Regions from separate parts of the Homo sapiens genome. Here region 1 is linked to region 2. The links come from fine-mapping of genetic effects on plasma protein levels. Region 2 holds a variant in brackets. A gene starts in the other region. All regions are shown on their reverse strands.

Evidence for each region. PIP is the chance, under the fine-mapping model, that this variant and not a neighbour inherited with it causes the effect. The UK Biobank Pharma Proteomics Project read protein levels with antibody pairs (Olink). The fine-mapping took linkage between variants from a reference panel, not from the people measured, so its PIPs are less certain.
Region 1: it holds the start of MCAM, and the variant in region 2 is fine-mapped to the plasma level of the MCAM protein (UK Biobank, PIP above 0.99).

What each region holds. Positions count from the first base shown.
Region 1 is chr11:119,315,499-119,318,409 of GRCh38, reverse strand. It overlaps MCAM (melanoma cell adhesion molecule), which reads left to right and starts at 1,280. Exons shown (of 16, transcript NM_006500.3): 1 at 1,280-1,375. The coding sequence starts at 1,309. RefSeq lists a silencer at 942-1,001 and an enhancer at 2,594-2,911.
Region 2 is chr6:112,137,550-112,140,460 of GRCh38, reverse strand. It overlaps LAMA4 (laminin subunit alpha 4), which reads left to right. Exons shown (of 39, transcript NM_001105206.3): 23 at 576-709; 24 at 1,170-1,341. The region is part of intron 1 of LOC107986633 (a long non-coding RNA gene); the gene reads right to left. Among named protein-coding and RNA genes, the nearest start is that of FAM229B, 51 kb to the right of the region's middle. The variant G/A (reference allele first, on the strand shown) is at 1,298.

The DNA of each region.
Region 1 (2,911 bases), not on the chromosome of region 2:
CACCCCGGAGCATGCTCTCAAGTCACCTGGCCATCTCCAGGGTTTGCTGGCTCACCCTCCACCTCCCCCAGCGAGCAAAGGGGTGGCCCCGCTGGGCAACAGACCTCTACCCAAATCCAGGCCCCTATTTGGCACTCCCTGGTGGAGGCGCGCCAGCAGATGTGGACCCCTTTTCTGAGGCCAGGCTGCTGGGGTCAGAGTGAGGCAAGAGCACCTCCCCCTCCCTAGAGCCTTAGTTCAAGAGGCCAGAAGACCCAGGGAGAAGCCGGCGTTTTGGGAGAAGGGGAGCTGCAGAGCTCCCCACCCAAGCAGGTCTGATTTGATTCTTCCCTCAGCTATGGACCCACAATCAATAGGGCTGGGGAAGACATGGGGTGGGGGAAGATCAGCGCTGCCGGGATCCTTTCAATCATCAGGAACAGCAACAGGTTTGCAGGGTCAGGCTGGGGACCCTCGCCCATTAACTCTTTCTTCTCCCTGTTTCTTTCTCTTAGGTGAGGGGAAACTGAGTTCCAGGGTAGGCTCCAGAGTGAAGAGGGAAGAAACATGATTCTCAAGGCCCAGGTCTGGACAAGTGTGAACACCTTGGGCCTGCGAATTCAGCCCCCTCCTTCCTTTCTCTGGTCAAAGGCTAGACTTGCAGGAGCTTGCGTTTGAAGGGACAGCCCAGAAGGCATCGTCTGCACTCCCCATACAGGTACTTCTGGGTCTGTGGGACTGGCGCAGGGTTCTTCTCCCAAAGCTGCCAGCACTGAGGCTGAGGCAGTGTCAGGCCGGCGGCAGCGGCAGTGGTGCAATCGTTCTGGGAAGCGATAGAGGCCGGCCTGAATTCTCTGTGGCAAGGGAGGGGAGCCCAAGTGGGAGGCCCCTTGGGGACACCGAGGACCAGGTCCGCTACTGCTCCTCCCCCAGGAGGTCCCCTAGGGGCTACATTGGCTGGCAGGGGCTGAGCAGCGGTGAGCCTGGCTGGCTTCGACCCGGGGCGACTCCGGGCATCCGGGACAGCTTCTCCTCGCTGCCACCTCGGCCAGTCAGACCCCGAGACACCTGTCACTACCCCCTCAGCCTTCCCAAGCCAGGAGCCTGGGAGTCCGGCTCTGGCCTACCTCCGGCAGCGCTCCTAGGCGCAGCTCCCGGGCTGGCGGCGCCGGGGCCCGCCCCCTAGGGCTGCGGCGCGCGGGGCGGGGGCTGGGGGCTGCGCGGGGCGGGGCGGGCCCGGGCGCTCCGGGCCCCCTCCCCCGCCCCCCTGACGTCAGCCCCCGGCAGCCTCGAGCTGCTCACTTGGCTCTCGCCCTCCGGCCGGGAAGCATGGGGCTTCCCAGGCTGGTCTGCGCCTTCTTGCTCGCCGCCTGCTGCTGCTGTCCTCGCGTCGCGGGTGAGTTCGCTCGCAGGGGGGCCGCGCCCCGGCTAGGGGTCTGCGGTGGAGCGTGCCAGGGAGCAGAGCCAGCGGCGCGGCGGGGTCGGGGCGTTGCGTCTGGGAGGACGAGCCTCCTCCCTGGGTCCCCGATCCCCGGGCGCCTTGCGCGCGAGCAACTCTTCTTTGCAGCCAGTTTGCAGCCGGGATTCTAGAGTATCCCGGGAGCAGCACTCGGAAGGCGGGGAGGAGGCTGCTTCTGGGAACGAGAAGGGGTGGAGCTCAGCCTTTCGGGGTGCTGGGGGGTGGGTGGTCCCTGAGGTGCTCACTCTGGGGGCCCGCAATTGAAGCCGGGCAGGAGGCGCAGCTGGGGCGCATCCTCAAAGCCTGAATTCCGCGCCCGCCTGTTGCTGGAAAAGGCAGCTTCCTTCGCTGGAGGGGGTGCGCCGACCCACCCCTTCCCCCTTCTGCCTGGGCATCACGCCAGGCTGGAGGTGAGCGAGAGCGGGAGGTTCGGCGGCTCCCGCCCGAGCTGGGCGTTGGCAGGGGTTGCGGGGCGGTGTGGGTCGCCTCGCGCCTCCCCGAGTGATGGGATCATAGGGGACAGAGATGAGGGATGGAGGATTCCCATACTGGAAGCGCCCGCTGGCTTATTTTGGGGACCACATTCAGGTGGGAAGTGCGCCCGGGCACCTCGGAGCGTTTCTCCGGATCCGCCTGGTAGCAGGGCGCTCTCGGGTCCACGCTGCCCTTGTATGGCCCGCAGCGGTGTCGCGTGTTTCTCTTGGCTCCCATTCCGCCGTCCCAGCCGCTGTCCGGCTGGGGAAGGGGAGGGCTAGGCAATACCCAGCTCGCTGGCCTCATGCCCAGTGCCAACCATGTCCCTGGGGTATTCCAGGCTACTGCCTCCCAGGCTGACTTTATTTCTGGGGAAAGGGCTAAATCGGGCTCCACAGTTGCAGCCGGTCCAGCTCCACCCTGCCCTGCTCTTCTAGCTCTGGGAGGAGTCAGGGGTCTGAGGCTCTGGGTTGGAGACCCCACCTTCCACCTGCCCTCCTTGTCCGAGAGCCAAGGTAACAACCCAGGCATCCCAGAGCCCAGGCAGATGGTGTCGAGTGACATCACCTCCTCACAGGGCTGGCAGCACGCTGGCACCACTGACGTCACTCCTGCCCACTGCCTGGCCCTTGCCCTGACCCCTGGGGGAGACTCTGACCTCTCCATCCTTACCAGCTACCTAGGGTGGGGTCCGCGGGTGTGTGCGGAGTGTTCATGGAGGTGCTGCTGAGGGAGCATGAGACCGGAACTTCCGCCAGAGTTAGCCCGCTGGGGAGTGAGGGCAGGGATTTTGGAGGGCAGAGGATAGAGCAGTGGTGTCTTCCCCTGGCGGTGGTGACACAAAAGGGCCTGTGTGCCCCAGCCTGGCACATGCTTTGCATTCCCACACTCTGAGCTCACCCGGAGAGGAGGGGGCCTGGAAGGAAAGGGGCCTTCCTCTTGGCCCCGAGCCTAGGTTGCCCCTTTCTGCCCCTCTACCAGCCTCAGCTGGAGCTGTTC
Region 2 (2,911 bases):
TGTGGTGTCACCACAGTTTAGATCTAATCTTCAGCTTTGCAGTGGTGGTTTCAAAAATTCAGTTATCTCACCTAATACAGGTATGAAATAAAGTATCTGGGATGAGAGAGGGGGTGAGACTTCGGAGAGAGTATGAAATCTGATGAAGGGGGATAAAGGAAAGGTCGAAGAAGATGGGAAGTTGATCTAGGGTTCCAATTTCAGGACTATTATTACTAGTTATGGGCACATAATTGGAATTTATCTGAGAATTATTTTCCCTCTCATTATATGAGAACAAGAATACCTACCTAACAAAGCTGGCGCAAGGACTGATTTTTGTCATGAATTCACTGTACAGCCTATGACCAGCACATAATCTATGCTCAGTAAATCCCACTTTCTCTGCTAAGATTTGCACAACTGACAAGTTACGCCATATCTAAATGATTTGGCATAAACACACTCGGGTCTAGAAAGATATTTCCACAAAGGGGTAGGTCTCCTTGACCTACTATTAGTTGCATTGTCTGTTCTGTGATGTCTGAGTAAAATATGACCATGAGACAAGTGGTTTTACTTTTTCTATTGCATAGCTCCCTACCAGCTTAAACCTGCCTGGCTTTGTTGGCTGCCTGGAACTGGCCACTTTGAATAATGATGTGATCAGCTTGTACAACTTTAAGCACATCTATAATATGGACCCCTCCACATCAGTGCCATGTGCCCGGTAAGAGACAGTTAAGAGTACTAAAGACTTGGATATTCATGCAAGAGCAGCAGATAGAACAAGTATGAGTCAATATTCAGGTTCTCAAACTTTTCTTTGGGGAAGCCAGTTTTGAAACTACATAAGTCATACCTGCAAAAAACTCTTCACCTGTTCTCTATCATAGATGAGCATGCCCAAGTATGAAGTGTTAAACAACTTGTTTGCAGCCTTGATTAAGGATTCCAGAGACTAGGGTGTCCCTGGAGACTTCAGTTGTCTTAGCACACAGGATACAGAAGAAAACAATCCATTTAACATACCTACAAATACCTCTTTATCTCTTCCTTGCAGACAACAGGACTTCATTTAAATGTTGTAAGGTCCACAGAAGATGTTAGAAGAATGGGTTAAAAGGGCTTCACTTGAAAAGCATAACAGAAACTGTAGTGTTCAAATGACCGTTGTGTTTCCATTTCAGAGATAAGCTGGCCTTCACTCAGAGTCGGGCTGCCAGTTACTTCTTCGATGGCTCCGGTTATGCCGTGGTGAGAGACATCACAAGGAGAGGGAAATTTGGTCAGGTGACTCGCTTTGACATAGAAGTTC[G/A]AACACCAGCTGACAACGGCCTTATTCTCCTGATGGTCAATGGAGTGAGTAAAAATACAAGTCCTACTACTTCTCCTTTATTTCCTTTACTTTCTGCTACTCATGTTTCCAGGAACCTTCCCAGGTCTAGTGTGTCATGCCATCAAACTGAAATTCTAGTTTAGAAAGTCAAATTGGATTTTCTTCTTCAGGAAAGTAATGACAGCAATAAATAAAAGCAACCCTGAGATGCATTTCCCCACAGTACATTTTTGGATATAAATAAACTAAGAGAACTTTGAGGAAATTAGAACCAAGATCTAGATGAGCAGGGTGTCTGCAGAAATTTTGCACTGGGCTCCTAACTTTTCCAAACCATATGCCCTAATCAATTTTAAAGCAAAGCTTGCATGCTTTGTATATATGTATGTGTGTATGTAAGTATATATGTATGTACACACACACACATATATATCTTTGTTTATAAATGATACATGTGTACTATAAACAGATATAAATATAGTATGAAACAGTCAAAGCTTGTAATAAAGGACAAATTATATAAAGATAAAATAAAAGATTATATATTTAAAATGAAGATTAAATTGACTTATTTATTAATGATACAGAAATGTTTTTCTCACTAAAATTATTTTTAATAGTACTTTATCTACTGTACAGCTCAAAGAAAATAGTTTTAGTGAGAAAATGTAATTAAGTATGCTAAATATTTTCAAAAATCCTTAAACTCTTTGTGACACAGTGATTCAAAAGTCTTGTCCTAAGTCCAGTTTATTTCAACAGTAATTTTATTGGTGGTTGTAACTAGACAAGACACCTCACAAAAATAAAAAATGAAAGAACCATATCATTAGCTGTGCCTACTAACTCAAATAGTTTTCAATCACATTCACCAAGTGGCAAAGGTTGTCTTTGAGATTTGATTGGTGTATTTCCTTTTTTCTAATATTAGTTCTTGTAAGCTAACCAGGTATCATTTTGTAAACTTTAATAAAAGGGTTCAAAGCTATTGAAAATCTTTATTTGAAATATTTTTCTAAAGGTTAGAAATTTCTTCCCTCAAATGTTTTAATAGAGCTGATAGGAGAGTTTTTGTAGGATTGCATTTACATTGTTCCCATCAACAAAAGCAACAATAGAAAAATTCCCAAACATATTTTTTAAAAACCATCTCTCCACAGTATAACCGTCCTCAAAAAAAAGGAGAAAAAGTTACTTTCTCATCCATTATTATGATAATACCCTTACATTGATGTGACAGTATGTTTCTTTTTTGAAATAACTAGTAGGATTCATACTACTGTCAGACATTTGTCATCACGAATAAAGTTCAACAAATTTAGAATAATTCATGTTACAAAGAAAAATGTGTAACCCTCTATAAACTTAACAGCATTTTCAGAAATTTGTAGGAAGTAGCCAGCAAATATCTGTGTGTCTCAAAATGTTTTCACATCACTCTACATCTCAATACAAAATGAGTGTAAATATTCTATTATTTCGGTTATATCAGCCTTAAATCCATATAACTAGCCACACGTAAACTGCAATAAATTGCAATAGGCTAGAAGCAAAGAAATGGATGAGGAGCTACCTTCAACTCTTCAAGTGTGG